Regions from separate parts of the Homo sapiens genome. Here all the other regions are linked to region 2. The links come from fine-mapping of genetic effects on plasma protein levels. Region 2 holds a variant in brackets. A gene starts in each other region. All regions are shown on their forward strands. Region 1 holds the start of LY9 (lymphocyte antigen 9). Region 2 holds the start of LOC124903019 (a long non-coding RNA gene). Region 3 holds the start of ADA2 (adenosine deaminase 2). Region 4 holds the start of CD5 (CD5 molecule).

Evidence for each region. PIP is the chance, under the fine-mapping model, that this variant and not a neighbour inherited with it causes the effect. The UK Biobank Pharma Proteomics Project read protein levels with antibody pairs (Olink). The fine-mapping took linkage between variants from a reference panel, not from the people measured, so its PIPs are less certain.
Region 1: LY9 starts here. The variant in region 2 is fine-mapped to the plasma level of the LY9 protein (UK Biobank, PIP 0.93).
Region 3: it holds the start of ADA2, and the variant in region 2 is fine-mapped to the plasma level of the ADA2 protein (UK Biobank, PIP 0.91).
Region 4: CD5 starts here. The variant in region 2 is fine-mapped to the plasma level of the CD5 protein (UK Biobank, PIP 0.95).

What each region holds. Positions count from the first base shown.
Region 1 is chr1:160,793,046-160,798,808 of GRCh38, forward strand. LY9 (lymphocyte antigen 9) reads left to right here and starts at 3,129. Exons shown (of 10, transcript NM_002348.4): 1 at 3,129-3,266. The coding sequence starts at 3,143.
Region 2 is chr12:111,441,929-111,447,617 of GRCh38, forward strand. It overlaps SH2B3 (SH2B adaptor protein 3), which reads left to right. Exons shown (of 8, transcript NM_005475.3): 3 at 4,825-4,926; 4 at 5,014-5,105; 5 at 5,197-5,291; 6 at 5,402-5,616. LOC124903019 (a long non-coding RNA gene) reads right to left here and starts at 2,817. Exons shown (of 2, transcript XR_007063462.1): 1 at 1-2,817. RefSeq lists a silencer at 715-901 and enhancers at 2,337-2,456, 3,207-3,476. The variant T/C (reference allele first, on the strand shown) is at 4,876.
Region 3 is chr22:17,216,620-17,222,382 of GRCh38, forward strand. It overlaps ADA2 (adenosine deaminase 2), which reads right to left and starts at 2,816. Exons shown (of 10, transcript NM_001282225.2): 1 at 2,737-2,816. RefSeq lists enhancers at 2,193-2,553, 2,394-2,463, 2,474-2,603.
Region 4 is chr11:61,099,432-61,105,194 of GRCh38, forward strand. It overlaps CD5 (CD5 molecule), which reads left to right and starts at 3,058. Exons shown (of 11, transcript NM_014207.4): 1 at 3,058-3,184. The coding sequence starts at 3,130.

The sequences.
Region 1 (5,763 bases), not on the chromosome of region 2:
CTGACATCGTGATCCGCCCGCCTCCGCCTCCCAATAATTTTGTATTTTTAATAGAGACAGGGTTTCTCCATATTGGTCAGGCTGGTCCTGAGCTCCTGACCTCACGTGATCTGCCCACCTCGGCCTCCCAAAGTGCTGAGATTACAGGCGTGAGCCAATGTGCCCAGCTGGCAGCACCACTTTTTGCTTGTTTTGTTGCTACCCTCTAAAAGGCTGGTCTCATAGCCTATATCCCTAGATTCCACTTGAACACTGTGACATTCCCTAATTCTTCCCTCTACTGTGGCTGCAGCAGTTGATTTGATGTTGAATTTCTTTAGCTCCTAACATATATTTGTCTTTCCATCTAAGTGTAAAAAGCTTTGAGCTTGTCAAAATTCTACAGTCTTTCATATTCTTCCAATCTGTAGTAGCATATATATACTGCAAGTCAAGACAACATTAGAAATAAAGTCCAAAAAATGCAATTGTGTAAAATGCAGGGTCGTCTTAATTGCACAGTGAATGAAGTGTTGGTTGGGGGCTGGTGGTGAAGCAACACAGCTGAGTATGTGGTTGTGGCTGCCAGACCCAAATCTCAACCCAGGCTGGAGTCTGATGCTACCTGGAGGCAATGCCCAGTTGACAGGGGTGATTCTGGGCCTGTAGCTGGCGGGACTCCAAGGACAGTAGCAGGGATTTCAAAAATTTTCCAGTCAGTCACACCCACTTGCTGGGGTGGTTGAAGTATACTGAGAAGGACAACACTGGAGACGCCGGGGCCAGCATCACTGGATGTTGCTCCCTGATTCCCAATGCTAGTGCCTTTGCCTCCCTGTCCTGATGAGAATATTAGCCCTCCCCATGTGAGGACAGGGCACACTTAACAAATGCATCATACCAAAATTTATATTAATTTAGGTTTTACTATACTTAAATGATAATACTTAAATTGGATTTTGTGTATTATAAGGCTGTGTCCTCCTATGGTCACAACTTCAAAGGAGGTCATTTCAGTGATGTTACTTTCCTAAATCTCAGTTTTCTCATCTCTAAAATGGGGATAATTGGAGTATCATCCAAATAGGGTCTATCTTAGGATTAAAGGAGAAAACATATGTAAAGTTCTAAACACAGAGGCTCACTCATAGTAATTACCCAATAAATGTTAGTAATGATTTTTATTATTACCAATCTCTCTGAATTCCCTTCTGCCTTTGCCCTCGCCTCCCATGCAGACTGTTCCTGCTCTCATGTTCTGTACCCAGACTCCTTCAATAGCTTCCGCACCTGTCTTCTCATCCCCAGGCTCATCCCTTCCACCCATTCTCCCTCCACTCTGCAGCTCCAGGAAGCTTCCTACTCCTACTGGATTCTTGTTGCCTTTAGCTTGGTAACAGGATGCTTTATCTGGGCTCTGGTAACCTCTCCTGACCGTATGTCCTGCAATCCCCTCTAGACAGCCCATGTTCTAGTCACAGGACCAAGGCTAGAGTGAAACAAGACACGCTCCTAGTGCACAAAATTTAAAGATTTTCGAGATTCTGTCACTTTCAATATTGTGCAACATCAGATCATGACCAGCCTCTAAAGATGCTTTCCATGGACATAAGCCTGTTATCTTAATGGTTTCTCTCTCTCTCTCCCTTCTTCCTTTGAACCCAGACTTCCTGGGTTCAAGTCCTTACTAACTATAAAACTTATAGTAAGCTATTTAACCCCTCTCCACCTCAGTTTTCTCATTTATAGAATGGGGATGATAAAAGATATCTCATAAAACTATTGTAAGATCAAATGAGTGAATATGTTAAAGTGTCAGAAGATGGACTAGCACTCTGTAAGCTTTCATCGAATATTAGCTAAAACTACACATTCTGCCAGCCTCAAGTTTTCCTGCCAAGTCCCCTTAATGTTACAGCCTAAGTAAACAAATGACCTGAAGCCCGAAACACAAACCATAGCATGGCCAGCTATTACGCTACTGACAAGAAGAAGGAGGAGAAAAAGACAGTTTCCCAAGTCAGGATATAGGGAATCATGCCATTCTCCAGCCTACCTTTTCAACTCAGTCACCTCTACGCTGTCACATACGATGTCCACCCCCATTGCAGTCTCCCTGATGCCTTTGTCCATATTAAAAGTCCTTCATTGCATGTGACAGAAAGCTAGCACAAACTGCCTTGAGCAAAATAGAAAATGTATTGGGTCACTGTATTAGTTATCTGTTGCTGTGTAACAAATTGCCCCAAACTTCACAGCTAAAAACAATAAGCATTTTTGATGAAAAATAAAAAATTGAAAAAAAATTTAAAAACCAAACATTTATTATCTCACAGTTTCTCTTGATAAGGAATCTGGGCATGGCTTAGCTGGGTGCCTCTGGCTTAAGGTACTCACACAACTAACATCACGGTGTCAGCCAGGGCTGCAGTCATTTCAAGGACCTCCTGGGGAGGATCCACTTCCAGTCTCACTCATGTGATTCTTGGCTAGCCTCAGTCCTCATGGACAGTTGGCCAGAGGAATCAGCTCCTCGCCGATTGTTGGCTGGGGGCCTCCCTCTGTTCTTTGTTTTGGAACCCTCTCCCTAAAGTATCTCACAAAACAATACCTGGCTCCCCTCAGTGTAAGGTAGGGAGACAGAGATAGTGGGAAAGACAGAGAGGGAGAGAGGGCAAGAGAAAGAGAGAGCGCATATGCACACACATGCTAACCCAAGATGGAAGTCACAGCTTTTTTGTAACCTAATCTCAGAAGTGACCCATCCCACATCTCTGCCACATTCTATTCACTTGAAGCAAGTCACTAAATCCAGGCCACACTAAAGAAGAGGTGATTACACAGAGGCATGAATGCCAGGAGGTACAGATCTTTAGCAGTCACCTTTAGGAGCCAAATTTAGAACCCAAGTCCCTTGATGTCAAAGCAAGTGATGCTCCACATCAGTCACAAATGAGGCCCTGAATAGACTTGGGACCTCTACCTGCCTGCGCAGATGGGAGGAGTCTGTGGTGTTTTGTATAAACAACCCTCCCTCTGAGACACACACACATACACATACACATGCACACACACACTCATATACACATGCAGAAGCTGTGACACGTGCGGAAGCTGTGGTAAGTGCATCCTCCTTCAGTCTCAGTTCTGAAAATAGATCATCATGGTGGCACCAAAGAGTCACACAGATGACTGGGCTCCTGGGCCTTTCTCCAGTAAGCCACAGAGGAGTCAGCTGCAAATATTCTCTTCTGTTCTACAGACCTCTCTCCTCTTCCTGCTCATGGGTAAGTCCACTTTATGGCCACCACTTCTTGCTACTGCGGTTCTTCTGAGGCCAGTTGCATTCCCTGCCTGGGAGATTCTTTTTTTTGTTTTTTGTTTTTTTTAACGGAGTCTCACTCTGTTGCCAGGCTGGAGTGAAGTGGCGCAATCTCGGCTCACTGCAACCTCCACCTCCTGGGTTCAAGCGATTCTCCTACCTCAGCCTCTTGAGTAGCTGGGATTACAGGTGCATGCCAACACACCCAGCTAATCTTTGTATTTTTAGTAGGGGCAGGGTTTCACTATGTTGGCCACGGTGGTCTCGATCTCTTGACCTCGTGATCTGCCCAGCTCAGCCACCTGAAGTGCTGGGATTACAGGCGTGAGCCCAGTTCTTGTTGGTAAAATCGGGAAACTCATCTCCTTGCCAGAAATTACTTTGCATGTGTGCATATTCGTGCACTATGAAGGGGGTAACATTCTAGCCCCGGTCTCAAATAGCTCTGGGCTCAAACTACATTTCTCTTGCCCTCACATTTTCCTAAGAAATGCCAAGTATATAATGAGTTTGTTCCCTGTATGGTGTGGATAAAACCCACAGAGGGATCCAGGAAAATCCCCTGATGAGAAGCCACCTAGCAATTTCCTAGGGATGGAGAGAACTTCTGGAGCTTCTTTCTATGTATCCTGCCTTGGTTATCATATATGCTGGCTTTATTACTGAGGTTTCACTGGGGACCTGGACGCGGTTAGGTGACCATGGGCAAGGTGGCGTTTATCTGGATATCCTTTTCTCCTCAACCTTATTCCTCCCTATCAAGGCCCAACTCCTGGGAAACATCTCTCCGCTGCATGGCCCGGAACCCCACTGTCCAGCAGATAGAGCCAATCCAGTACCCCAGAGAGGATCTCAGCCACCTGGGACTGTGGCAGCTACTGTCCTTCTGTGCTCCCGCTTTCTCCAGGGCTTCAGGGATGATGGTGCAGGTAGCACTAGAGATCTGAGAGCAGTGGGGGTTGGCAGTTGGTGCCTGAAGGGAGCTTTAGAAACACTCCTAGATGCAGATATGGGTGAACGAGGAGCCTAGACCTCAGAGCTGAGGTCCAGTCTGACCTCTTTTCACTTTCAATTTTATCTTGGCTCATCAAAACACACAGAAAGCAGCAAGGCTGTTTATGTTTACCTCCAACCTTTGGGGTGTTCCTTGATTGTGTTGAGCAAACCTGAAATAAGCTACATTCAAGGTCATCCAAGCCGCAAATGATCAATGCAGTGAATTTCAAACAGTTCAGAGCAAAGAGGCATCTCCATTGGTCTGGCTCCACTGATTAGGATGACCTCAAATCTCACTCTTTTGGTCTGAAAGGATGATGCTTTTGTATCTCCAAAGAGTCATTTCAGGAACTTAAAAGGCAGTCGAGTGAAAAGACCCCTCTCACTTTAGTATCAGGAACATCTGAAATTAAATCATTGCTCCATCATTTATTAGTGATGAGGGCCTCTATTTCTTAAGTGTAAAATATAGTTAGTAGGATGCATCATGCAACACTCTTACAGATTGTAGATGATCTATACACACACACACACACACACACACACACGTATAGTGGCACATAGTTGGCAGAAGCTATGATTGTTATTATTATAATTACTGTTACGTGCATTCTTTGGAAACTATTAAGAGACAGGTGAGTCAAATTCAGTTTTGCAATCTTTGAATGCTCTTTTATTATTTGTCCTACGGTGCAATTCAAAATAAAATGACTGGTACTGGGGACCTGTCATTGTACTGGGAGCTGCATTGCACTGTCTTCTGCAACAAGATTTGCCCTGTGAGGCCCACATCCTGCCCCCTCCACTGAGAGTCTGTGAGGCTTTTGTTTATGGTTTTTGTCTGATGTAAGAAAATTTGAAGTCAAAACGAGTCATATGCACCCAGTCAAGACCCAGCAGCTCCTGGGCTTCCAGGATACAGATGGGCAGTACTCCTGGCCTCCCTACTCCAGGGGCATCATGGACATAGGATCTGGACTCTGTGACTGATCAACCCTGTAATCTCAGGGAAGTGGATTAAATTCTCTAAATTTCAGCTCCTCATCTGTAAAAAGGGGCTAATTATAGTATAGTTATGAGAATTAAATGAGATAATTTACATAAAGTACCTAATGCACACATAGCAATCGTAAGCAGTCTCTTCCAGATGGGAAGAGCTCTCTTTTAGAAAACCTCAAACCAACCTCACATCAACTCAGCCTGAATCTGCCTAAAGAATCCACCTGACCCAACCTTCTCATGTCCAGGATCCCTAGCCCTGCATGCTCCATAGCTGCCTCTCCACAAGGTGCAAGTGCTTGGCTGATGGAGGTCTAAGCAGAGAACCCCCATGACCTGCACCAAGCAGCCTCTCTCCTTCCAGTGTCTGCATATTCTGTATCCTCTGGGTTTTCAGAGCTTGCTTCAGCTTTCTTCCGCCCCTCCAGGCTATGCTTATGCTCCTTTTTTGTCTCTAACATTTTCTA
Region 2 (5,689 bases):
GCAAGGAATTTTTTTTTTTTTAAGACAGGGTCTCACTCTGTCGACCAGTCTAGAGTACAGTGGTGTGATCTCAGCTCACTGCAACCTCTGTCTCCCAGGTTCAAGTGATTCTCCTGCCTCAGCTTCCCAAGTAGGTTAACTTTTTGATACTAGACAGTAAGCTTGGATTAAGTATTTTCCATAATAATGCTCATTCATCCATCCCGGCAGCATCCACTTCAGGTTCTGGGCTGGGGTGAGGGATCAGCCATCCAGGACAGGATCTGGAATTTGCTCTGCGCCTTTTCAGACCCCCTCCCTCTCCTCCTCCAGTAAGAAGGTCAACAGGACCTGCTTACGGGCCCCCTATTACTGAAAGCAAACTGAACCTCCAGTTAGTGTCCTGCCCAAGGTTTCAAAGGTAAGTAAGTGGTAGAGCTAGGGCTCTTCTAACCACCTGCAGAGCTAGGCCCAGGCTGCCAGATGCCTCCTTGAGGGCATAGGTGTGGCAGAGGCGTGGCTGGTGCTGGAGGGTCGACTGAGGCCTGTCCCACTGCTGCTGTACACCGATGAATGTGGGCTCAAAGGCTCTGGGGAAGGTAAGACCACCAGGGAGCTAGTGTGGCCTGGGGGTTCCCGGGGGTGGGCGGTCTCTCCCCAAGGCTGGTCTGGGCCAAGCCCTTGCTGCTGGGGTGTGTCAGATGCTGCCCTGTGTCCTGCCCTCCAGCGTCCCAGGAGGAGGGGGACAGCCAGCAGGCCTGCTCCTGTTAAGAGCTTCCCCACCTTAGAAAAAGCTCAAGCTGATTCCCACAGCCTTGAAGCCCCATGGTGGCTTCTGGGGGCTGCTGTGGCAGGCTCACCTGTGCCTCTTCCTGCTCTCTCACCAGGGGAGGCCATGCCATCAGCCTTGCTCTCCACGTAGGTGTGGTCACGCCACCAGAGCTCTGGCCTTTGACTGGTGTGTCCAGCCCTGCCCTGCCCCGACTTGCCTGTCTCTGCTGGATGCCTGAGGGCAAAGCCAGTAACAGACCCCACTCAAGCTGGTTATGAGGACCTGGCAGGGTGGGGTGTGGCCCAGTACCTCGGAAGACTCTAGAAGGACCATCCTGGCCCTATAAATGTTTGTGCCAAGACAGGTCCCCTGTCCCTCAGCACACAGAAGGGGCAGTAGGTAGCAAGACAGTTTCCAGGTAACAGCATGAGGGCAAGTGAGGCCTAGAGAGGAAGGGTCTGTTGCCTCCAGCCCGTCACATTCCCTCCAGGCGGGCTGAACAGCCAGGTGGGATAAAGAGGGATCCTCAGGTAGGCGGGAGTCAGGGAGAGCTGCGTGACCCCACGAGGCTGGTGTTTCATCTTCACTTCTCAGATGACGGGACTGTGGCTCAGAGACCTTTGCAGGGGGACTGATCACAGCACAGGGCCATTTGAAGGGAGCCTGGAACTGCATTTCCATGTGGACCCTGGGTGGATCTGGAACCAGGCTGGCTTTCCTAGCTCCCCCGCCCTTTGGCTCCCTTATGTTCTTAGCCTTCTTTTCACAACAAACTCAGAAGCAGCCAAGTAGTTGGTTGTGTTGTCTACAGTTGCACTGAAGCACGTTTTATTTCGGCTAAGTGACAGTCCTTTGTTGTCCCTGTCTTGTAATTAGTTAGGGTAGTATGTTGGTTATATTACGTGGAATTTATTGCAGGATGGTAAGGGAGCATGTGACAAAATGGGGCAATAGTTCTGTAAGGCTGAGAGAAGCTGGGGGTGTACCCAGTGGCTAGGCTACTCAGAGGGGACTGTCATGCTGTCAGTAGTGTAGTGGGAGCCAAGCAGGCTTTACTCACCGGCCTGTTAACAGCTGTGCGAGTCATGCCTTTCGCTTGTGTTAGCTCACCTTGTGAAAAAATGAGCTGAATTACAGATGACAACTAAGGCATGGAGAGCCGAACCCTTTGTCCAGGGTTGTATAGGAAGTGGCAGGGTCAGGGCTGAATCTTAAAACCTAGAGGGTAGGGCCCGGCGTGGTGGCTCATGCCTAAAATCCCAGCACTTTGGGAGGCCAAGGCAGGCGGATCACCTGATGTCAGAAGTTCGAGACCAACCTGGCCAACCAACATGGTGAAACCCCAGCTCTACTAAAAATACAAAAATTAGCTGGGTGTGGTGGCAGGTGCCTGTAATCCCAGCTACTGCGGAAGCTGAGGCAGGAGAATCGCTTGAACTCAGGAGGTGGAGGTTGCAGTGAGCCGAGATTGCGCCACTGCACTCCAGCATGGGCAACAGAGTGAGAATCTGTCTCAAAAAACAAAAACAAAAACAAAAAACCCTAGAGGATAAAAGAACTATAACATCTGGGATAAAGTTAGCTGTTGAAATAAATACAAGTCCTACCGTTGGGGTAGTGTCAGAGCTGGCCTACGTCTTTGACTTTGAGATTCCTAGCAGCCAGAGCAAAGAAAGAAATAGATTATTCCCACTGGAGCCACAGTGGCCATAACAAACAGAAGCCATCTGTTTAGATGCTGGGAATGGAGAAGACTTGCTCCCCAGAAATAGACGCTGCAGGATGTGGTGGGTGACAGTCTACTGTTCAAACCACAAATACCTGAAATGATCTGGCCACTTTGATCACCCAACCACAGTAGAGCCTAAGCAGGTCCAGGGAGCAGCTGTTGCTGGCCTGGCTTGACTTTTGAGGGAGGTGGAATAGCGGGCATGTGAGAGGAGGGAACCTAAAGCCCCCACAGCTGCTGACACAGCCCCCAGGTTTGAGCTTGTCTCCCCTCTCACCCATCCCCCCATATAGCTTAATCTGATGGGCATCTGGTGGTCCTTCCCTGCAGTGGCCAGAGCCTGAGCTGTCCAGGCTGAGGTTTCGACTGAAGCAGGGGTTGTCCTGCGCCCATGTGCCCACACGCTGCAACCTGGCTGGAGCCTCTGGCATAGGACACCCATACCACCAGGTAGCTGTGGCGGACCCCGGCTCTGATACTTGGCAGGCTTGGGTTGAGATTGTGGCTCTAGGCCTGGGCGGCTCTCAAGGGCTGCTGTGGGGAGTTGGGGAAGAACCCCTGGGTTGTGCTCAGCCAGCAGGCAGGTGGCAGCCAGGCTGGCTGTGGGTGAGGAGGGGAATCCTCTTTTCACCACTGCCTGCCTGCTCAGCAGTTCTTCAGCTGCTGGGGGTGGAGCTGGCTTGCAGGGGCCAGAGTCAGAGTGAAACCGGCAGCTCTGCTGGTTAATCTCAGCACTGACACTGGGGACTAGGCCTGGAGCGGAACTGAAAGGGAGACTAGGCCCGTTCCCCTCCAGGCCTGGCCTATATCCTCCCAGTGATCCTTAAGGCCTGCAGCTAGGGGGAAGGGTGGGGGCCAGGCAGGGCCAACTGGAAAAGTAGCAGAAGGAAGTGGCCACTCGCACCTTACCCATCTTGCAGACAGGAAATGAAGGCTCTGCAGGGCTGGCTGGCTGTAAAAATGGGCAAGAGCGCAGAGGCCCCACTCCCTGCACACTGCGCTGTGTCCAGTGCCCGTGTGGATGCCATGTGAGGCCTCACTCTGCCTGCCTCATCCTGGCTGCTGGACCTCTGGGAGTAGGAGGTGAAAATGCCCTGGCTGGTGCTGGTCACTTCAGGCTGGAATTTTCTAGTCATGCAGCTTTCTAGTGAGAGGCCGCAGTGAGCTGTGGCCAGTGTTGGTCATTCCTGCAGTCATTACTCTCCCCCAGCCTGTTGTGTCCGCCAACCAGAGCAGGCCCGGGAGCTCCCAGGAGACCTGCTGGAAGGGCCCAGGTGGCCATCCTGCTCCTGCCAGGCTGCCCTCTTACCTCACTGTTCATTGACTCTCCTGCAGGTGGGGAAGGGGGATAAAGGAGGTGGCCAGGCCACTGGGTCATGATCCTTCCGACAGAGGTACCTGGCAGCTCTGTGTGTAAAGCAAGGTTAAGCATCTGGTTTTGGGGGTCAATTCAACAGCACTAGCAGCTCCAGTCCAAGGTATGCCCTTTTGGGCTGAGGTGGAGGTCAGATCACCTGAAGCCACAGTTGCTAGAACATCCTTTGGGCTGCCTCTGCTTTCCATCCCCCTGCTCCCAGTTTGTTAGGGGTTGTAGTATTTTCCAGGAACACCTGAATGGAGGGGGCCCAGTGGGGCCACTTCTGTCCATTCCTTATCTCATCTCTTTCTCCCCTTTTCTTCTTTCGGCCATCTTTTCAGTCTTATCACAAGAGGAAGGGGAGGGGCAAACCCCCTCCTGAGCAGATTCCCAACCGGAAGCAGCTGGCTCCTTGGCTGCAGAGTGCCCCAGCACAGGAAGCATCTGCAGGGTCAGTTGAGACCTGGGAGCAGGTTTCCTGCTGGCAAAGGAACAGTGGCTAACTCCTATCCACCCTGCAGCCCTATGTGCCGGGTGTCCTGGGAAGGTCCAGGGCCAAGATTTTGTGGTTTTACAGTGGCTATAACTTAGGCTAGCCATGCTAGGCTCTGCCCCTTTGGGCTTGGTGTGATGAGACCGTCAGCAGCTGCTATCACCTGGCTGGGCAGGGAGCTGTTTGCTCACCAGTGGGAAGAGAAACGGATGTCAGACACATGGCAGAGTGGGAATGTCTCCAAGTCCAGGTCCAATGGGCTGGGAGGGCTGGCCTTCTGCCAGCACATGCTTCTTGGGATCTCAGTGTGAATGGTGTTCAGGAGGCTAGGGGAAGGCACCCTGGACCTCACTACAGGCTCAGAGCCTGCCCAGCAACACCATGGATACTCTCTCTAAAAGGGGGACTCCTGGGGAGACTATAGACAAACTCAGGCCTGGCTGGAAGAAAGAGCATCAGGAACAAGCCTTGAGTACCCCAACTTGGTCTCGTAGAGTTCAAGGCCCAAGCTACAAGCAGCTTGCTCCAGCATCCAGGAGGTCCGG[T/C]GGTGCACACGGCTTGAGATGCCTGACAACCTTTACACCTTTGTGCTGAAGGTGAGTGACAAGGCTTTTCACACCCTGGGGCAATACAAATACATACACATACAGCAGACCCAACCCTGTTCCCTTCCTCCCTGCCAGGTGAAGGACCGGACAGACATCATCTTTGAGGTGGGAGACGAGCAGCAGCTGAATTCATGGATGGCTGAGCTCTCGGAGTGCACAGGCCGAGGGTGAGGTCCTGGGCCCTCGTCCCTGGCACCACCTTTGCTGCTACCACCCCTGACCTGCCCAGATCCTTAACCTCAGCCTCTTCTCCAGCAGGCTGGAGAGCACAGAAGCAGAGATGCATATTCCCTCAGCCCTAGAGCCTAGCACGTCCAGCTCCCCAAGGGGCAGCACAGATTCCCTTAACCAAGGTGGGTAAACCAATAGCTAGGCCATTGTCTTCTGGGTACGCTGGAACCCAGACTCAGCCCAGGACATAAGGTAGCCCCCTGCGACCACCATCACCCATCTTATCTAACAGGTGCTTCTCCTGGGGGGCTGCTGGACCCGGCCTGCCAGAAGACGGACCATTTCCTGTCCTGCTACCCCTGGTTCCACGGCCCCATCTCCAGAGTGAAAGCAGCTCAGCTGGTTCAGCTGCAGGGCCCTGATGCTCATGGAGTGTTCCTGGTGCGGCAGAGCGAGACGCGGCGTGGGGAATACGTGCTCACTTTCAACTTTCAGGGGATAGCCAAGGTATGGGGTGGGGTGGGGTGGGGTGGGGCAGGCAGGACCGTGCCACCCCTCTCCACTGGAGTTCAGGGTCCTA
Region 3 (5,763 bases), not on the chromosome of region 2:
CCATGTGGCGTGTGCCTGTAATCCCAGCTACTTGGGAGGCTGAGGCAGGAAACTTGCTTGAACCCAGAGGGCAGAGGTTGCAGTGAGCCGAGTTCGTGCCACTGCACTCCAGCCCGGCAACAGAGCAAGACTCCACCTCAAAAAAAAAAAAAACACACACACACACACACATATATATAGAGAGAGAGACTCAAATAAAATGGATTAAAGTTAAAATAAATAAATAAATAACAAATATAACCAGAGCACAAGATCATAAGACATGCTTCAAACTGAGAAAGAAACCAAAACAAAACACACAGAGATAAGGAACTGAGAGGAAACAAAGCAACACAGGAAATAAAAGAAAAACCTGAAAGAACTGTAATTAACATCCTTAAAGACATAAAACATTGTGTGTGTAAAACAGGAACAGGAGGTGATTAAAAAAATGAGAATTAGAAAGAACTTTCAGAAATTAAAAACAGCAAAGCCGAATGTTTAAAAATTTACTAGCAATATTAAAAATGAAGTTAAAGAAAATATTTTTAAAAGTAAAGCAAAATAGGAGAAAAGAAAATGAGATGATTATTGGTTGAAGAAATCCAACACCCAAATAACAGACATTTCAGAAGGAAAAAGAAAAAAAAAACAGGTGAAGGAAATAAGCCAATAAGGAATACAAGAAATTGCCCCAGAACTGACAGTCTTTAGATTGAGTACCTTGCACAGCACAGTCAATCATTCTGTGGCCACACCAAGGTACAGCATCTTGGTATTTCAGAGCATTAGCATTAGAAAGGATTATCAAAACTTGCAGAGAGCAGCCAGTTCAGGGTGGCAACGAGCAGGGACTGAAGGAAGGAAATGTATTCAGCATCTCCTCACACAAGGCTCTATGCTGCTCCTTTACCTGGGTTATCTATTTGAATTACATTTAAGAAGGGGCAGTGGCTCATGCCTATAATCCCAGCACTTTGGGAGGCTGAGGTGGGCAGATCACTGGTGCCCAGGAGTTCGATACCAGCCTGGGCAACATAGCAAAACCAAAATACAAAAATTAGCCAGGCGTGGTGTATTGAACCTGTAGTCCCAGCTATTCATGAGGCTGAGGCATGAGAAGTTCTTGAACCTGGGAGGCGGAGGTTTCAGTGAGCCTAGATTGCACCACTGCACTCCAGCCTGGGTGACAGAGCAAGACTCTGTCTCAAAAATAAATACGTAAATAAAATTTTTAAAATGAAAATAAAACGATTGTTTCTCTACACTTGAAAGTATGATACAGCATACTGGAACATGTCAAGACTGTAAATTAGGAGACCTTAGGAACAGCCTCAAATTAGTATCATTCTAACTGTGCAACCTTGGGCAAATCACTAACGTCTCCAGATCTCAGTGTCCTCACCTACAAAAAAGGTAACTTGGACAAGATCAGTGGTTTTCCAAGTGCAGCATGAATATCATCAGTGGCATAAATACAATCTTAGGTGGCTCACAAATGGATAGGGGTTATGTTGACAGATAGGTAATTTTAAAACATGTATTAGCACATCAAACCCATGATATCGTAACTATTATTGTTTTTGTTGAAAAATTTTTAAGTTAAAGAAAAATATTAAGTAAATAGAGGTGCAAGGATATGACAAAAATGGAAAGTTTGCTACTCATTAAATCATTTTAATATCCAAGATTCTTCCCAGCTCAGTTATTCTGTAGTACATCAGATAGCAAAGAAAATTTTAAGAAGGAACTAGTATCAGCAATATGCAGTTATGGCAGAAGCTGTACCCCCAAAATCAGAGTGCTGGACGTCAGCAGAACCCCTTTAACTTCATTAAGTCCTTGACTCTCTTTTTTGACCACGGTGTTTGCCTGCTACTAAAATCTCTAGGGCAGGAGCACGGTGACTTCTATGTCACCATCCCACCTACCCCATGCCACATTCTCCATCAACAGCCCCGCCCCTTGTCCCTGTCTCCCTGGTGACACATAACAAAGGCCATCAAGCTCCCAAATCTTCAACTCCATCCTCTCCAAGAAGGACCCCAAAAGCATTTGTGTCCCAGCAACTGTGAACTTTTCCAGGCTGCCAGACAGAAGTTTATCTAATGGTGGTCAAGACCTGCCTGGTTGAATACTAGTAAAAACAATCCTTATTCACAATTTATTGCTATATCTACTTCATCTTCTCTCCTCCACAAGATTTTCCTTTTACTTTTAAAAGAGGATGCATGAAAACTTCATAAAGTAGTTTGCTTCCAGACTAAGAAGAAAGGAGGCTGGGTGTGGTGGCTCTGCCTGTGATCCCAGCCCTTTGGAAGGCCGAGGCAGGCAGATCACCTGACGTCAGTCGTTCAAGACCAGCCTGGCCAACACGGTGAAACCCCGTCTCTACTAAAAATACAAAAATTAGCCGGGCGTGGTGGTGGGTGCCTGTAATCACAGCTATTAGGGAGGCTGAGGCACAAGAATGGCTTGAACTCGAGAGGCAGAAGTTGCAGAGAGCCGAGATCGTGCCACCACACTCCAGCCTGGTGACAGTGGAGTAGGCCACATGCATCTGTGGTCCTGAGTAAATGCCCTTGGGCCCATTTTCAAAAGCCTGTTGGGAGAAAGCCTGTTACTCCTCCACTGAGAGTCTCAGACCCAGCTCAGATGGAGACAGGGAGAGGTGCAGGTGGATCAAGCCCAAGCTCCGGACTTCCCAGCTACCTCCTGAACCTCATCATCCCACAGCTCCCAAAGGACCCCAGTTACCTCGGAACAGCTCCAGAAACTGAGGGCTGTTTGCTCAGCGCCCCAGCATCTGTGCAGAGCACCGGAAAAGCTCACCAACTGTTTCACTTCCTGTTGGGGTAGGTTTTATTTCCCTCCAGTGTGCACCAGGGATCCAACTAGAGGCCGGGGAGAGGGGCTCTGCAGTGCTGAGGCAGCCAGAGTGGCAAGTGTGTGGCTTACATGCATGCTTGCTGTGTGCATCTGAGTTTGATGTGGGGGGCTTGTGCGCATGTTCATGTGGGTGTTTGTGTGTTCGTGTGTGTTTCGGTTTATGTGCATGTGGGGTTTGTTTTTTTTTTTTTTTTTTTTTTTTTGTAGACAGAGTTTCACTCTTGTTGCCCAAGCTGGAGTGCAATGGCGCAATCTCAGCTCACTGCAGCCTCCGCCTCCCGGGTTCAAGCAGTTCTCCTGCCTCAGCCTCCCGAGTAGCTGGGATTGCAGGCGTGCGCCACCATGCCCCACTGATTTTTTGTATTTTTAGTAGAAATGGGGTTTCACCATGTTGGTCAGGCTGCTCTCGAACTCCTGACCTCAGGTGATCCGCCCACCTCGGCCTCCCAAAGTGCTGGAATTACAGGCGTGAGCCACCATGCCCGGCCGCATGTGGGTTTATTTGTGTTGGAGGGAGGGTGTGTGTGTGTTTGTGTGTACTGTGTCTTTGAAAGGTCCACAGCATGTTGGTTTTGGAAACAAGCACCGCAAAGAGGCACTCCAAAATCTGTTCATGAACTCTGGGAAGTTCTCCTTCCTCAAAATGTGATTGTGGACTGTGGGGCAACCCATTAGACAGAGAGTAAAAAGTAGCTATAATAAAATATATGTTTTAGGGGGGAAATCAGGGATGCGGGGACAGGACAGTAGAGGGGGCAGGAGGTAGGAGACAAGAGCTGGGGTGTGAAGAGGACCAGCAAGAACAACGCTCCAAGGGACAAGTGGAGCAGACAAGGCTCCTGTACCCAGGACGGTCAGAGTCAGACCTCGCTTTGTAGCTGGCCTTAGCACTGTAGCAGTGGGGCCTCGACCAAGTTGTTTCAACTCTCTATACTTCAGTTTCCTCATCTGAAAATGTGGATAATAAAAGCACCCACCACAGAGGGTCCATTGTCAGAATTAAAGGAAAAACACATGCAAAGTACCTGCCACATAGAAAGCTCTTGATAAATATTAGCCATGACTATTCTTAGAAGTAACTATTGGGATGCCTCATCCAAGCCAATTAGAAATGCAGACATGGGAGGCTACACCAGGGACCTCCATGTCACATGCATGGTCTAAAGACTCGATTGCACCCCACTCCTCCCCAGTCCCACTCAAATCTACCCCCAAGACCCCAAATCTACCCCCAAAAGCCCACGGCAGTTTCAGTTCTGCAGCTCCCATACATCTGGAGCCTTGATGCTCCTTTTTGTCATTTTCTCCAAAAAGTACCAAGGTCATTCATTTAATAAACAGGAAGAAATCCCAAAGTGAAAACACAGAGGGGTCAGGGATTCCCTCATCAAGAGTTCAAGACTAGGCTGGGCTCAGTGGTGCATGCCTGTAATCCCAGCACTTTGGGAGGCCGAGGCAGGTGGATCACAATGGAAGGGGTTCGAGACCAGCCCCTACTAAAATACAAAAATTAGGTGTGGTGGTGCGCACCTGTAATCCCAGCTACTTGGGAGGCTGAGGCAGGAGAATTGCTTGAACCCTGGAGGTGGAGGTTGCAGTGAGCTGAGATTGCACCATTGCACTCCAGTCTGGATGACAGAGTGAGATTTTGTCTCAAAAAAAAAAAAAAGAGTTTAACACTAATTTTTTGAAAGTTAGAGGAAGCAGAATGCACCGCAAGTAATAAGGAGAAACAAGATTGATTCCAGCGCCGCACAAAGGGAAACCACCAATTCTGAAAGTAAATCATGTGAAGGGTTTTTTGTGGGTTTTTTTTATACTTTAAGTTCTAGGGTACATGTGCACAATGTGCAGGTTTGATACATAGGTATACCTGTGCCATGTTGGTTTGCTGCACCCATCAACACATCATTTACATTAGGTATTTCTCCTAATGCTATCCCTCCCCCAGCCCCGACCCCCCCGACAGGCCCTGGTGTGTGATGTTCCCCTTGAAGGGTTTTTTTAAAGACCAGGTCAAAGCTAAAGATCAAGCTTTTCTTTCCAAACGCTTTAGCTAAAAGTAGGAGCTAATTTTCACATCTCCGAAGGTGGCTCCAGGACTCCAAGTCACACCTTGGCAAGGGTGTGGCAGCTGGCAGAGGACTGCAGGTCCTTGTCAGGCAGAACCTGCCGGGTTCTGGGGAGTGGAGACTCAGATCTTGAGGTGGAAGCAGAGACAAGAGCTGGGCACACTTACCTGGATGTGGGGTTGGGAGCGGTGAATCAGAGCCCAGTTAGATCCTGGAGGCTGGCAGCAGGCTCTGCAGAGGTGCAGGGGCACCTCATTCAGAAGGGGCCATTTATTGGCCCTCTGTGGCTAAAACCAGCTCCAAGCAGGACTTTTTATGGCTGGAGTCGCCTCCAAAGGGGCGTCGGCCTCCACTCAGGTGTGACTCTGAGCGTTGCCTAGCTGAAAAGGCGTGATGATAGGGAGCACACGTGAGGCCATTCGGGAAGAATATTTTGCCAAGTGCAGAGGCCGTAAAAACGTGGAACATGGCTCTGTTTTTTATGCTCTATTGAAAATGATCATCAGAAGCAGAAACTGGGCTTGTGTTCAGAACCTGAAAATCTGCAGGGCAGAAAAACAGGACAAAGGCATCTTTTAGTGACTGCAAAACTAAACCTCAACAGAAAGATGCCTGAAGAGACAGGTGGATTATGACCTCAGAATTGGAGACAGGAGAGGTTTTCAGAATTAAAGATCATCTATGGCTACACAAACATTTGAGAGGTATTTTCATTAAAACATCCCTTTCTTCACACCAATATCATGAATTATATGCTATGCACAACCTATAACAGAGTATAGCAGAGTTACCAGTGGTTTAAAGTGCTGCATATATGATTGTT
Region 4 (5,763 bases), not on the chromosome of region 2:
ACACACACACATCAACATGGAGATTACACATACATCAACATGGAGATCACACACACATCAACATGGAGATCACACACACACATCAACATGGAGATCACATTCGCACACATCAACATGGAGATCACACACACACATCAACATGGAGATTCACACATATCAACATGGAGATCACATTCACACACATCAACATGGAGATCACATTCACACACATCAACATGGAGATCACAAACACACATCAACATGGAGATCAAATTCACACATCAACATGGAGATTACACACACATCAACATGGAGATCACATTCACACACATCTACATGGAGATCACATTCACAACACAAACATGGAGATCACACACACATATATCAAATGGGGATTACACACACATCAACCCCAACATGGAGATCACACACACAGCACAGAGATCACACATGTCAACATGGAGATCATACACACACATCAACATGGAGATCACACACACATCAACATGGAGATCACACACACATCAACATGGAGATCACACACACTCGTCAACATGGAGATCACATTCACACACATCAACATGGAGATCACACACACACATCAACATGGAGATCACACACACACGACATGGAGATCACACACACACATCAACATGGAGATCACTCACACACATCAACATGGAGATCACACACACATCAACATGGAGATCACATTCACACACATCAACATGGAGATCACACACACACAACATGGAGATTACACACACACATCAACATGGAGATCACACACACATCAACATGGAGATCACACACACACAACATGGAGATCACACACACACATCAACATGGAGATCACACACACATCAACATGGAGATCACACATACATCAACATGGAGATCACACACACACGACATGGAGATCACACACACACATCAACATGGAGATCACTCACACACATCAACATGGAGATCACACACACACATCAACATGGAGATCACATTCACACACATCAACATGGAGATCACACACACACAACATGGAGATTACACACACACATCAACATGGAGATTACACACACAACATGGAGATCACATTCACACATATCAACATGGAGATCACATTCACACACATAAACATGGAGATCACACACACACATCAACATGGAGATCACACACACATCAACATGGAGATCACACACACAACATGGAGATCACACACACACATCAACATGGAGATTACACACACATCAACATGGAGATCACATTCACACACATCAACATGGAGATCACAAACACACATCAACATGGAGATCACACACACACATCAACATGGAGATCACATTCACACACATCAACATGGAGATCACAAACACACATCAACATGGAGATCACACACACACATCAACATGGAGATTACACACACATCAACATGGAGATCACATTCACACACATCAACATGGAGATCACACACACATCAACATGGAGATCACACACACATCAACATGGAGATCACACACACACATCAACATGGAGATTACACACACATCAACATGGAGATCACATTCACACACATCAACATGGAGATCACACACACACATCAACATGGAGATCACACACACACATCAACATGGAGATTACACACACATCAACATGGAGATCACATTCGCACACATCAACATGGAGATCACACACACACAACATGGAGATCACACACACACATCAACATGGAGATTACACACACATCAACATGGAGATCACACACTCATCCACATGGAGATCACACACACACATCAACATGGAGATCACACACACATCAACATGGAGATCACATTCACACACATCAACATGGAGATCACAAACACACATCAACATGGAGATCACACACACACATCAACATGGAGATTACACACACATCAACATGGAGATCACATTCACACACATCAACATGGAGATCACACACACACATCAACATGGAGATCACACACACACGTCAACATGGAGATCACATTCACACACATCAACATGGAGATCACATTCACACACACAAACATGGAGATCACACACACATATATCAAATGGGGATTACACACACATCAACCCCAACATGGAGATCACACACACAACACAGAGATCACACAAGTCAACATGGAGATCATACACACACATCAACATGGAAATCACAAACACACAACATGGAAATCACACACACATATCAACATGGAGATCACACACACACATCAACATGGAGATCACACACACATCAACATGGCGATCACAATCACACACATCAACATGGAGATCACACACAACACAGAAATCACACACGTCAACATGGAGATTACACACACATCAACATGGAGTTCACACACACATCAACATGGAGATCACACACACTCAACATGGAGCTCACACATACACCTCAACATGGAGATCACACAACACAGAGATGACACACACAACACAGAGATCACACAAGTCAACATGGAGATCTCTCTCTCTCTACACACACACACACACACACACACACACACACACACACACACTGGCACAAGCCCAGCATTCATGGCGCAGCCATCTCTTGTACTTGCTAGCAAAACACCACCTGTGGAAAGTCAGCTCAAACTTCCAACCTCATCCCTCACAAAGGGGGAATGGAGGGTTTGGTTTTGGCTTTCACTGGAGTCTGCAACAAGAACTGGCATCATGCTGCCCATTTCCCGCCTCTCCCCACCCAGACCCCTGCCTCAGGGACGCCTGTCCTCAGCCCAGCCCTCAGCTGCAGCCAGGCCTTCAGCCTCCGTAACCCCCGCTCAGGGTCCCCACCCCCTGCAGCCCTGTCCCTCCAGGATGCATGGCCTTGTCCTGTGTGGGGGTGGCCGAGAGCACTGCCCCAGCCCTGGGTACCTTGGGCAGGAAGCTGGCAGAGGCCAGGGCTGCCATTCAAACAGGGGCAGGTGGTTTTGCCAGGAGGAAGTTGACAGTTCAACTTCAAACATGGGTGACGCAGGCCCCACACTGCCTGCTCCCCGTCCCACCCCTCCCTGAGCACGCCACCCCGCCCTCTCCCTCTCTGAGAGCGAGATACCCGGCCAGACACCCTCACCTGCGGTGCCCAGCTGCCCAGGCTGAGGCAAGAGAAGGCCAGAAACCATGCCCATGGGGTCTCTGCAACCGCTGGCCACCTTGTACCTGCTGGGGATGCTGGGTGAGTACCCCTCCCAGGTGTCCTGCGAACACCCGGGCTCGCTCCAGTGCAAGGAAGGAGTTCCCAGTTTTACCCAAGGCTGACTCTGGGATCCACATGTCAGCCCTCTGGAGCGTTGTGGAGATTTGGGGCCACTGGGATCCCTGCCTGCCCCCACTAAGCCGCAGCTTGGCCCTCTGTCCTGCATGTCCCACCCGCCAGGAGCACAACCTTGCCTCTCTCATGCGCTGTTGAGAACCCTGCTTTACCCTTCCAGTGCAAGAGAGACTGCAGGGGGGACCCGCATTTGATGGGGCCCAGACAACTTGATTCCTAGGCTGAGTTGGATTTTAGCAGAGCATTCAGGCCTCCCTCTGCGAGGTCCCCCACTGACAGCCCAGCCTTTACTTGGTCGCCTCCAGAGACATGGAAACTCGCCGTCTCCGAGGCAGCTCTGATGATGCTCTGGACAGACAGTGGGCCGAGGCAGGGTGGAGCCGCCTCTGAGGACGATGTCTGAGCAAATGTCAAGGACTCATAGCGGAAGTCCTAGGCCCTCTCATGCCCAGTCCTGGGTCAGTCCCAGAGGGGCCCAGCCAGGCCGGCTGGGATGAGTACACGCTGGGCCTGCTCTCACTCCAGCCCTGGGTTGTAAGCCCAACCCTGTGTGACCTCGGATAGGTCCCCAAGCCTCTCCAGGCCTTGATCTCCCCATTTATGAAATGTGGGGGTTGGGGGTGTGAACTGGATGAGGCCTGACCCACTTCCTGAGGATTTAGAAGGTCTGGCAGGGTGACAGAGGTGCGTGACTCTGGGCTGGAAACAGGAGGATGCGAGCAGCTTCCAGGCTGGCAGGGAGAGGGTCCGGAGGCCTTGCCTGCCTGAGCAGGGAGCCTCAGCAGCCTTCTAGGGAAACCGGGTGTGCAGGTGTGAGTGTGGGGGAATGCATGTGTGTGTGTCTGTGTGCATGTGTGTGAGAACTGTGTGTGGGGGAATGTGTGAGTCTATGTGTGTCTGTGTGAGTCTGTGTGTACGTGTGTGAGAACTGTGTTGGGGGGTAATGTGTGACTCTGTGTGTGAGTCTGTGTGTGAGTCTCTGGGCATGTGTGTGAGTACTGTGTGTAGGGGAATGTGTGAGTCTGTGTGTGAGTCTGTGTGTGAGTCTCTGGGCATGTGTGTGAGTACTGTCTGGGGGGGAATGTGTGAGTCTGTGTGTGAGTCTCTGGGCATGTGTGTGAGTACTGTGTGGGGGGGAATGTGTGAGTCTGTGTGTGAGTCTGTGTGTGAGTCTCTGGGCATGTGTGTGAGTACTGTGTGTGGGGGGGGAATGTGTGACTCTGTGTGTGAGTCTCTGGGCATGTGTGTGAGTATTTTGTGGGGGGGAAAGTGTGAGTCTGTGCGTGTGAGTCTGTGTGTGAGTCTGTGTTCATGTGTGTGAGAACTGTGTATGGGGGAATGTGTGAGTCTGTGTGTGAGTCTGTGTGTGAGTCTCTGGGCATGTGTGTGAGTACTGTGTGGGGGGAATGTGTGAGTCTGTGTGTGAGTCTGTGTGTGAGTCTGTGTGTGGGAGTCTGTGCGCATGTGTGTGAGAACTGTGTGTGTGTGCTTTCATGAGCACAATGCGGCCTCCAAAGGCAGGATTATCTCCCCAACACATGTGACAATGGCACCTGTGCACACATGTTCACATGGTTCTTCTCACATGTAACAACAACAGGTACAAAATGCCTTCTGTCCCAAAGTAAGAGGCCTGAGACAGACCTCTGGCTGGCTTCAGGGACCCTGCTAAGGAGGGACCAGGCCCTTAAACCCCCCACCTGCTCCTCACCTCTGGCCTCAGACTTCATTGAGATAGGGCGGCTCCCAGCTGAGTATGGGAACCCGTGTCCTGCTCTAGGGCCCTCCCAACTGAATCCCATCATGGGTGAGGCTCCTGATGGCACCAGGCAAGTCCCCTGGCCCAACACAGGCCACAGTCAGGAAGACTTGGAGGTAGCCCCTTCACCCCAGTATGGGGACCTCCTTGAACCCCAGGAATACTCAGTTCCCAGTGTCTGAGTGAGCCGGTGGGTACCAAGCATTCCCTTTGTTCAGTGGGTAACGGTTTACAAAGCACTTTTAAAGCCATTTTCTGCTGCAAGCTTCACAACAGCCAATGAAGTAGGTGGGCCCATTGGCCCCATTTTACAGTGGGGAAAAGCGAGGCCCAGGAAGGCCGAGTGCAAACCCAGGGTGCAGCAGCTGGTGCACAGCCGAGCTGACCCCAGCCCAGCATTCCTGCCTTCACAGAGGCCCCTCCCTTAGCTAAAAGGGAAGGCCACCAAAGGCACTTCCGTGTGCAGGAAAATGGCCCTGGGACACAACCTCCACCAGCAGAGATACAGCCACCAGAGCTGGGGACACCAAGGGCCAGGGTTGCTGGAGTCAAACAGTGCAGGCACCCTTTGAGCCATTCCAAGGAGAGAGGCAGCAATGCCAGAGCCCTGGGGACACCACAGCCTCCTGGCTGGCATCGGGGCTTGGGGACCTTTGGATCCTGAGGCATGAAGATGCCCCCAGCAGGCCTGGGTGCTAGTGACAGGCCAGGGCTTCCCACAGTT